2 separate regions of the Homo sapiens genome follow, and region 2 is linked to region 1. The links come from fine-mapping of genetic effects on plasma protein levels. Region 1 holds a variant in brackets. A gene starts in the other region. All regions are shown on their forward strands.

Region 1 (5,378 bases):
GCTGCAGAGGCCCAGATGAAAGAGGAGGGGTTCGTTGACATGGGCCTTCAAAGGGGCCAGGATTGTGTCTGGGGACACTGGGTTGTGGTGTCTAGTCAGGCTGTTGGGCGGCTGCTCAGTTTGGACCCCAAGCCTGTGCTGCTGTGCTGCCTGCCCTGTGGCTGCAGCCTGGCTCCAGGCAAGCAGGGGAGACCGTGCGTGTGTCCACTTGGGAATCAGGCTTTCTGTGCTATTGCTTTTAAGGCGCCGGGAGCTTTGCCCATAGAACCGAATCTGTTCCACTCTTTCACCCATCTCTGATCTTTCCCCCTGGGGACAAGGCCTTCTCAAAACCCCAAAAAAGGGGAGCTATCATCCAAACTAACTTATCTATCCTCTGGCACCCCGCAGATTGTGACTTAATTGGGCTGGGGATTGGCCTTGGGCCTTGGTATTTTTAAAGCTAGTGATTCTGATGTGCCACTAGCATTGAGAACCACTGCTCTGTACAGATCTTCATGCCACAGTGGTCAAGCTGAGAGCAGGGCAAGGTCTTGCTTAAGAGCATACAGTCAGGGTAGCAGAATCAGGATTTGAACTCCTGGCTCTGTAATCCTAGGTCGGTGTTCTTCCTGCTTGTGCACAAGGGACCAGGTGAAGCGTGGCTTCCTGGGCCTGGATGGGCACTGGTGAGCAGGGGTTTGGGGGTTTCTGCTACTGCCACCTTGCTAGCATGGTTTCTGTCCTGTTCTGCTCCCAGCCTGTCCTGATTCAAGATGGCATCTGGGTAGTCACAGCTGGTGGGCTCTCATCTTATGACCACTCAAAGAGCAGGTTTGGGTTAGGGATGCAGTTTGTTGCCACGGAGACGCCCCTCCTGTTGCTGTTGGAGTGACGGGAAAGCTGTTAATCCTGGGAATCCTCCTTTCCCTTCATGTCCAGCTTCCGTGGTGTGGCTCTTTCTGACTTGCAGATGCTCTCCTTTGCACTGTCATGGCACCGCTTGGGGATGATTGAATGGACTCTGTTAGTTTCTTAACAAAATTAATGGTGGGCCAGGAGGCGAATGGGCACTGTCGTGTTGAGCTTATCTTTATGACAGCCCCATCTAGGTGATCTGTCTGTGGTGGTTCTCAACCGAGCACTATTTTGTGCCCCTGGGGGCATTTGGCAAGGCCTGGAGACATGTTTGATGGTTGGATGCTATCAGATAGAAGCCAAGGATGTTGATAAAATCCTGCATTACACAGGACACCCCTTCCCCCCAACGAAAAATTTTCTAGCCCCAACTGCCAATAGTGGCAAGATTGAGACACCCACATTAAGTCCTCCTGATAGCCCTGGACAGTGACACTAGAATTGTCACCCTAGTTTTATGGAGAAGGAGACTGGGTTCACACGAGTCCCATGGCTTGGCCCAAGGAGACTCAGTCTCTAGTTCCAGGTCTAGTCCCATATTCCTGCCACCATCTTGGACTGGGTAATGAGGCCCCCAGCCTTCTTCCCATCTTCTGGGCCCTGGTGTTTTGGGTGCTTGAGTAGGAAGGTGAGGGCTGAAGGATGTTGGTGCCGCCGGCCTTCCCCTCTTGGTTTCAGAAGGAAACCAAGGAGTGAATGCGCTCTGAGCTTTCCTCCATACCCTCATGTCCTCTCTTGGGTGGATTTTTTCACCTTTTATCACTAGTTAAAAGGGTGACAGAGCCACGATGTGGAGAAATCAAGTTCCAAAGCCAGAGCAGGAGCCAAGTGGGATGGAAGGGCCATGCTGTGCCCCTTGCCCAGGGCCTCTGGCTGCTCAGTTGAGAGGGAATCCCAGGTCCCCCTGGTGTCCACCAAAGTGGAACTTGACTCCCTCAGGACAGTCGTGGGCTTCTCAAATTCTACCAAAAAGTCACAGCAGCCCACCCCCGAAGAAAGCACTCCCATGGGAAGGAAACCTGTTTGCCTGCACATATGCAAAGGTGGGGGCTTGGAGAACTGACCGGGACGGGGAAGGGGAAGAGAGCCACTAGGCAGAATAAGCTTTCTGTGGCCACACCCTAATCATGGCATTGTCACTGCTACACCCAACGGTAGCCAGTGTAAATAGTTTCCCTGGTTACGTATTCTTCCGAGCCATTCATTCAGCTGTAGGGCTGTAGGTAAATATCGCTTTATAGAGGCAATGGGCTAATCCTAATTTCAATAAGATCCTTTACTGCTATCTTTAAGAGATTTTAAGCCCCTTACATCATGATGT[G/T]TTTCCCTCCTTAGTAATAAACCCGAAGAGTTGTGGTTGTTATTCTGGACAGGGAGAATAAGGTGTGAAAGGTTGAACATGAACTGCCCTAGCTCTCACCGCTAGTAAGAGCTAAAGCAGGCCCTGAAACCAAGGCCTTCGACTCTGAGTTCAGTGCTCCCTCCCATGTAACGCCGTCTCTTCTTTCCACCCTCCCCTCCGAGGAGTAGTGGAAGGGACCTCTCAGTAGGAGGAGGGTGTGGTGGGGGCCAGGTTGCCCCAGGTGCCTCCTGGCTCCCCAGCTGGGGGCCAGCAATTAGGAAGGAGAACCACCTGCATTGACGGTCATTTACCCAATTGTGCTTTGTGGGATATTCAACCCAAGGAATGTGGCACACCTGGCTGAGCGTAAGAGGAAGCCCAAGTTCTCCAAGGAGGAGCTGGACATTCTTGTCACAGAGGTGACCCACCATGAAGCAGTGCTCTTTGGGAGGGAGACCATGCGGCTGTCCCATGCTGACAGGGACAAGATTTGGGAAGGCATAGCCCGGAAAATCACCTCCGTCAGCCAGGTGCCCCGCTCCGTCAAGGACATTAAGCACAGATGGGATGACATGAAACGGAGGACCAAGGACAAGCTGGCCTTCATGCAGCAGTCCCTGTCGGGCCCTGGGGCCGGGGGCCGGGCCCCCACCATCGTGCTCACGGCCCACGAGAGGGCCATCAAGTCGGCGCTGCTCACGGCCCGTGCAGGGCGCGGCTTCCCCAGGGCGGAACTGGATGGCACCGACAGCCCTTCGACCAGCTGTGAGTATCACCAGTCCCCCCCGCCACCCAGCCGGCTGCCTGCCCCCCAGCTTACAGTCCACAGTCTCCCACCGACTTTCCCTCTGGTTCTCTCCTGTCCCTCTCTGTCCAGCCCACTCTTTCCATCCTCCCCTCCTTCTCCCACTCTTCTCCTCTCCATCCCTTTTTGCATTCATTCTCGAATATTTACTGAGCATCTCCGTGCCAGAGCCGTGCTAGGAGCTGGGAAGACAGCTGTGTGTAAACCCCACGCAGGCCCTGCTCTTGGGGAGACCCTGGACTCCTAGGAATAAACCAACGTTAAATAATTGCACGAGTAAACTGGAAACGAAGGGATGGAGGACACAGGAGTCCAGGAGGTCCCGAGAGCAGGGCTGACTTCATGAGCATGCAACCTGAACAGTCACAGGGGCCGCGGGGTTTCAGGCTCTGCTGTCGCCATCTGGACATTCTTCATAGTTTTTGAGCCAGGGGCCCCACGTTTTCATTTTGCATTTGACCCTGCAGGTTATGTAGCAGCTCTGTCTGAGAGTTAAGGAGTGGGTAAAACTGGCTCCACTGGGGACTGGGGAGGGCTCCCTGAAGAAGTCCAGCGGACTAGGATGTGAAGAGTAAGAGTTAACCAGGCCAGGCAGCAGCGTGGGGCGCGGAGAAGGGGAGGGGAGGCGCGCAGGCAGAGAACAGCATGTACGAGGCCCCGCATCAGGAAGGCGCTTGGCACGTTCCAGGAACAGTGAGAAGCCAGGAAAGCCCAAGTGTAGCAGCGCGGGGGAGGGGGCTGGAGACGAGGCGGCCAAGCTGTGAAGGCCCGGGCCGGGCCATGGAAAGATCAGTTCCTTTCTGTGTCTGGTCCTGACTGCTTTGTTCCTCTATTATTACTCCCCTGCCTGAGCCACGCTGCCTGCCCCCACTTTTCTGTGTGCTGCCTCTCAGCTCCCTCTCCATCCTCCTGGCTGCTCCGCCACCCGCTCCCCACCCCTCTTCTCCCTCTGTACTTGTCCCTGCCTTTCCTCTCTACTTCCTGTGTCTCACATGCACTTTGAAGCCAGGGCCCCAGCGGCCGAGGCGGGTGTCCCTTGGGGCTGGAGTTCTAGTTGGGGCTCAGCAGAAGGGGGAGCACTAAAGGCCTCCGCAGGGACTGCAACCCTTCCTTTCCACTTCTGCACATCTCCCCCGTGCCCCGCCAGCTGCAGTCCCCACTAGAGGCCGTCTGCCTGACCGGCTCGTGAGTGGTGGGAGCCAGGCAGGAGGGGCCCCAGGGAAGCAGCCGTGGCTCAGCCCATGGGAAGGTGCTTTGCAAAGACTCACTTGCACCTTCCCTTCCCGGGCCCCCTGCCATTGTGATCCACTTGCTTCCTGTTTGGCTGGGGCTCCTGACAGGTGGCAGTTCACAGAGTCAGATGTTTAGGACTGGAAAAGAACATGGAGACCATTTAGTTCAACTTCCTTGCAATGCAGAAAGTAAGCTCTGAAAACCAAGGTGGCCCTGAGCTCAATTCAGAAGCAGGACTTGAACCCGGGTCTGCTGGCTTCCTGTGAATCAGTGTTTTCCTAAGTCTTAAGAGGATTCCACCCCGTGATAAGAAAAAATGGGGGGGTCAGCATCCAGTAAAGCCTGTTCCCTGCATCCTGCTCCGCTCACCCCTCCATCTCCCTGAGACTGAATGTAATGAGGCCACCAAAGGTAACCTGGGCTGGCAGGGAGCCCGAGTGTGCCATCAGGCAGAGCCCGCTCACCCCCATGGCAGGCTCACAGCCCTCCTTTTCCTGGCAGTGGCCAGCTGCGGCAGCACTCGGCCAGGGGCTTGGCAGAACGGGGACCTGGGAGGGAAGGAGCAGCATCACCTCGCCGGGTCTCACTCCTTCCAACACTGGCCATGCTAGACAGGTCTCTGGGATCTCAGGGGATGGCTGCTGTCCCACCAAACACTGCCAAGAGACACAGGACTCTTACCAAGCTGGCCCAAGTGAGCCCCCAGGACCCCTGGGAGGCATGAGGTAACTGTAAGATAAACCTGTCTGTCCTCCCCATCACCTTCCTGGGGGGTGGTTCTGAGTTGAGTCCGCAGATCCAGGCAGGGAGGGCTTGCCTGTCAGTAGGGTCAGCCCATACATCATTTAATCCTGCCACAGGGATCAGCCCATACCCTTGGTCACCAGAAAGCAGGACCCACATGTGCAGAGGCTGGGCCCCCTCCCTGTGTCCGGCTGCAAGGAGCAGTCTGTCCGATGGCCCCTGTGGATGGGAGCACGATGTGACTGAACTGGAAGCCTGCCTTGGGGGACAGGGGGACAGCAGGGCTGGTTGCAGAGGTGGCTCTCCTGCTCTGCACTGTCCTGCCAGTTTCTTCAGCCTGTCAGCATGTGCTGCAGT
Region 2 (5,378 bases), not on the chromosome of region 1:
CCTGATCTTAGAGTAAACGTACTCTGTCTTTCAATATTAAGCATGATATTAATCATAAATTTTCCATGATGCCTTTTATTAAGTTAGGAGGTTTTCTTCTATTCCAAGTTTGCCGAAAATTTTTTCAGGAATCTATGTTGGATTTTGTAAAATGCTTTTTGTGTATGTGGTTGTGTGTGTGTGTGTGTTTCCATTGGGATCATCATAAGGCTTTTAGTTTTTAGCCCGTTAGTAGGGTGAATTTTCTTAATTGAATGCAAACTAAACTCGCATTCCTGAAATAAATTCCACTTCGACCATGATGTATTATTCTTTTTACATATTGTTTATTTTGTTTTGTTAAATTTTGTGAAGAATTTTTGCATCTATGTTCATTTCATGAGGGTTATTAGTTTGTGGTTTTCTTTTTTGATAATGTCTTTCTTGTGAACTCTAGCTGCCTTGGGGATCCATGGACTCCCAGGTCTATCTCTTCAATTTGGTGATGCTTCTGGCCTCTGCCTTGGTAACTTTTCATGCACTATGGCACAGAAACTTTCTCCAGGCAGTCTCTCCCTGTTTGTTTCCCATCTCTCTCGGATCATGTACTTTTGTTACCTGATGTCCAATATGTATAAAGACATTATTTTATATATTTTGTACTGTTTTATAATTATTTTAGGTGAGAAAGTAAACCTGGATCAGAAGCACAAATTCAACATGCCTGGATTCTTTTAACAGTATGAGATCATATACACTAAGGCCTCTTTAGCAAGAAAATCACTACCCAAATGCATGGTATTTATTATAGTTCTTTTAGTAACAGGCCAAGTGTCTATCAGTTGTCCATTACATATGTACACACACACATACATACATATATCTCCCAGGGATAGGTATATAAATCCGCTAGAAAATGAGTTCCTGAATCAATGCTTTATACAAAGGAGGCACTAATTCCATTAGAAACACACATCCAACATTCTTCCATTTATCATATTCCTGTGTTAGCATCTTGTCTGAAATTAGGTTGGCACACTCATTTCCAGTTTCCCTGTTTTCAAAATTATCTTACTACATAGTAGCTCACATTCCCAAGACCTTGGACCCTGGCATGGCCATTTCTAGGTATATATCTGTTAAACTAAATGTGGCCTGAGGATACCTCTGTTTTGTGAGTTCCTACATAATGAACTGCAACCTAACTTAGTATGTACACTACCTGAAAGCCTAACTTAGGAGTATACTTTTGTAACAGACAGCTGAATTTCAGCTCATCACAGCAGCTGAGCTTCAGTCAATTACAGGCAGCCAGCTGATCAGACTTTGTCCAAGTAAGGCAAGTGCTGATGTATAATGAAATCAAGCTGTTTCGATATCTCATTTCTACTTTCTGTCCATAAATGCTGTCTGCCCACATTGAGGAGCAGAGCTCTGTGAATCTCTTCTGATTCTGAGGGCTGCCTGATTTGACAATCATTCTTTTTTCAATTAAACTGACAAAAACAAGCAATGGGGAAAAGATTCCCTGTACAATAAATGGTGCTGAGATAACTGGCTAGCCATATGCAGAAGACTGAAACTGGATCCCTTCCCTACACCATATAGAAAAATCAACTCAACGTGGATTAAAGACTTACATGTAAAACCTAAAACTGTAAAAACCCTCGAGGATAACCTAGGAAATATCATTCCAGATGTAGGACCGGGCAGAGATTTCATGACGAAGACGACAAATGGAGTTTCAACAAGAACAAAAGTTGACAAATGGGACCTTTAACTAAAGGGCTTCTGCATTATGGCCCAGAAACTTTCTCCAGGCAGTTTCTCCCTGTTTGTTTCCCATCTCTCTAGGATCGTGTACTTTTGTTACCTGATGTAACAGGAAAAGAAACTATCAACATAATAAACACACAACCTACAGAATGGGAGAAAATATTTGCAAACTATGCATCTGACAAAGGTCTAATATCCAGAATCTATAAGGAGCTTAAACAATTTATAAGCAAAAACTGAAGAACCCCGTTAAAAAGTGGGCAAAAGACATAAACAGACACTTTTCAAAAGAAGATATATACATGGCCAATAAGCATATGAAAAAATGCTCACACCACAAATCATTAGAGAAGTGATATTACCTTTTAATAGAAACTGAAGAGGTCAAGCATGCCAATGTCATATGGCAAGTAAATGGCAGGGCCAAAATTTTATCTCAGGTCAGCTTGACATCCTGTCAGATGTGGCCATGTTCCTCAGAGTCATTCTTTCACATGTGTAAATTTTACTTAATATCTTAAAATCCCCCAAAAATATTTTGAACTACACATTTTGTTCTAAACAAAATTTTTAGATGAGGAATAATTTTATATATCTTTACATGAACATTTAGGTAAAACTTGAAGCCCTCAAGCCCCAAATAAATTTTTATTCCCAAGACTTATTTAGATGATGTTAGAGTGTTTTTTGAATTTGGTTTTTCCCATTCTGTATCTATCTTTTATTAATATTAATAAATAAATATTAATAAAGAATATATTTAAAAGGTAATTTTATTTTGAAACAGAAGAGAGGAAAATGCATGCTTTAATAATGTCAGTTTCCAGGTAAAGATATTGTGAGCTTGTTTGTCTAAATACATTTTATTTGGAATTCAGTATGAATTTTCAATAGATGCTTTTCAGATAAGAAAGCAGTAAATCAAATGCAATTGTATAAACAAGAAGATCAGAGGGATTATCCTGAAGGGTATAAAATGAACCAAGAGCTTTTAGTTTGGGTCACCACAGCATCTGCTCACCAATGCAAAGTAAGGTAGGTGTCTATAGTGAGAAGGCTCTGTGAAATGATATGTTCTTAAGCTATTTTTTTTCACTTTCACCATTTTATCATTTTTTAGAAAGTGGCAAATGCTGAAAGATAATTTGCTTCAACAGGCTGTAATATCTTAAATTACTGCTCCAAATTGTTTAGTAGTAGATGGAGGTGAGAGAACTACCTACATAAGGATAAGGAAAAAATTCATTGACTTAAAGAAAGAGAAACAACTGATTAGTTCCCTAATGAAGGATATTTGATATTCATGGCTTTCTTCTGTTTTCATTTTGATTTAAATATTGTTGTCCATTTAATGATGTGTGTATTAAATCCTCTCAATTACTGTACTAATGGCCATCTTTTATGAAAATGTACTTCCGGGAATGTTAGAGCAAATTCATTTTTGAGTACCTGCTGGGGTAATGTACTCTGTATTATAAGTTCTTTTTAGTTATTTAATAGCTAAACCTCCTTTGATAGTGTTCAACACACACACAGCTGCTGTATAGTACATTTTGCTTTCTAGAAAAATATACTGCTTTAGTGAAGTTCCAGGATTATTCATAGGATGGGCAATTAGTTCTTTTCATAGTAAGGGATTTGGAGAGTAAAAATTAATGAAGGAAATTAGCAGAGCAGAGAGGAAAGTGTTTATTAAGAATGAAGCATTGGGAGCAAAAATAAGAGAAAAAAAGAGAGGAAAGAGGCAAAGGAAAGAACATATCTTGGAATAAGAAAATACGTTCAAAGTAGGGACATATATGTCCATGCATCTGAAGAAGGCATCTCATTATTTAGGCCCTGCCTGAAACCATGCCTTCTATGTTTAGGTACCCAACAAATTATTCATGGTGATTTCAGAATAAGCAATTAAGTGGCAAAGATGAGAACCCAGATGACAATGAGGAAGAAATTGTGGCATATCACAGAGGAAGGGATTAACTAACGCGGATTTGTACAGTGTTATACAGCTATGTGATCTTTCTTATATAGAGAGCCAAGTGTTTCACATGTATTGTTTTATTCTTTTTATGATTTTAGGAAGGGACATATGGAAAAATGAAGGCACAAAGATATTAAATTGCTCAGTTGCACACAATTACAATTAAATCCTTAAGTAGAATTTAGATCACTAACTCTTAATCAATCAATCAGATCTGACACTAATTTATCATATAGAATTACAGACTATTTGTGCTGCGAAGATTTTCATGATCATCTTCTGGCTCTAAGCCCTGCTTTTATAGGTGAGAAAGTTGAGGCCCAGAAAGATTCTGTGGGTGAAGTTTTACTATTCGCAATAAAGAAGTAAAGGAAAAGAAAAGTTCTTGCTTTCTTTATGCCCACAAAGTTGTACAGATACTGTGGCTGGTAATTCAGCACTTCCATTTTCTACTTTTGTTAGTTTAGAGTTCTACATTTATAGGAGAAACTTCAAAAAAATATAGAGTATCCATAGTTAGTATGACAATAGGAAAACCAAAACAAATTTTCATCCTACATTTTAAAAAGGGTCAGGTGTACTTGTCACTTTCTATTTTGCAGATGGGGAAATAACACTCAAACAGATTATATATTTTAGTCAAGTTCTCATAGATTTATGGAAGAATTCTGTTTCTTAATTTTTAGACCAATATTTTCATCACCAGGTCACCACATTGATTTTATACAGAATTATAGAGCTAAAAGTTAAAATATGTGAAGTTAGTTGTTTCCTATAGAAAAAACTCAGTAGCTGGCTGTCTAAACAAGCAAGAACTATAATGGCCATGATGGGTAAGCATTTTACATAATTTACCAGTTAGTAATTTTAAGATCCTACAGAGGATCATCAAGTTCTGTATCTCTAAAATACTGGAAGCAACTCTGTACCATAGAGGGAGCTCACATTTGAGAAGCGCTTGAGAAAGCCAGATTCCATGAGTAAGGAATTTGTATGTTTTTGCTCCTTAACTCAAATACCAAACAAACCTTCCGTGGAATGTTTGAATATGCAACATTTCATTTAAAAGAATTTGTGAGAAAAACCCCTGTTATTTTAACCTTTAAAAGTTAAGTCTTCCTAAAATGGGTTAGTTTACTTTCTTGTGTAATAAGAAGTATAGTAAACATAAATCTTTGATAATTGTAGGTCTTAAAGTCTTAATTTGGACTCTTTCAGAGCACTAGAACAATCTGCGTTTTTATTATTTGTGTTCATATTAGCTCCTCCACTGGACAGTCAGCCCTTTAGGTAAAGGACCGTAGCTTTTCCGTTTGTGTTTGTCAGTGCCTGGTTCAGATGCTCAATATATGTTTATCTAATTTATCTACAATTCTCATTCTAGGAATAGAAGGTTGATTGAAATGACCACTGATCTCTGGAATTTGACATTTAAAATAAATCCCTGGTAACCTGTGTAATGTGGTTTTCATGGTTTCTTATAAGTTGATTGAAAAAAAAATCCTGGTTAACCAAGGCCGAACCTATGAGGTTTCAGTTTACAGAGGTTTTAGTGTATATAGCTTAAAGATGCTGTTGGGATATAACTGACAGATTTGGGGAAATCTTGGTACTTCTGATTATTGAACAAAATATTTAGTAA

Alleles and levels. Alleles are on the strand shown, and positions count from the first base shown. The strength of an association depends on the size of the effect and on how common the allele is.
For the plasma level of the protein whose gene starts at base 2,756 in region 2, G is the low allele of the variant in region 1 and T is the other (weak association).

What was found. PIP is the posterior inclusion probability: the model's chance that the variant is causal. The UK Biobank Pharma Proteomics Project read protein levels with antibody pairs (Olink). The fine-mapping took linkage between variants from a reference panel, not from the people measured, so its PIPs are less certain.
Region 2: TSHB starts here. The variant in region 1 is fine-mapped to the plasma level of the TSHB protein (UK Biobank, PIP above 0.99).

The regions. Positions count from the first base shown.
Region 1 is chr11:45,206,292-45,211,669 of GRCh38, forward strand. All of the region lies in intron 5 of PRDM11 (PR/SET domain 11), which reads left to right. Among named protein-coding and RNA genes, the nearest start is that of PRDM11, 62 kb to the left of the region's middle. RefSeq lists enhancers at 3,109-3,856, 3,857-4,604, 4,605-5,351. The variant G/T (reference allele first, on the strand shown) is at 2,219.
Region 2 is chr1:115,027,071-115,032,448 of GRCh38, forward strand. TSHB (thyroid stimulating hormone subunit beta) reads left to right here and starts at 2,756. Exons shown (of 3, transcript NM_000549.5): 1 at 2,756-2,790.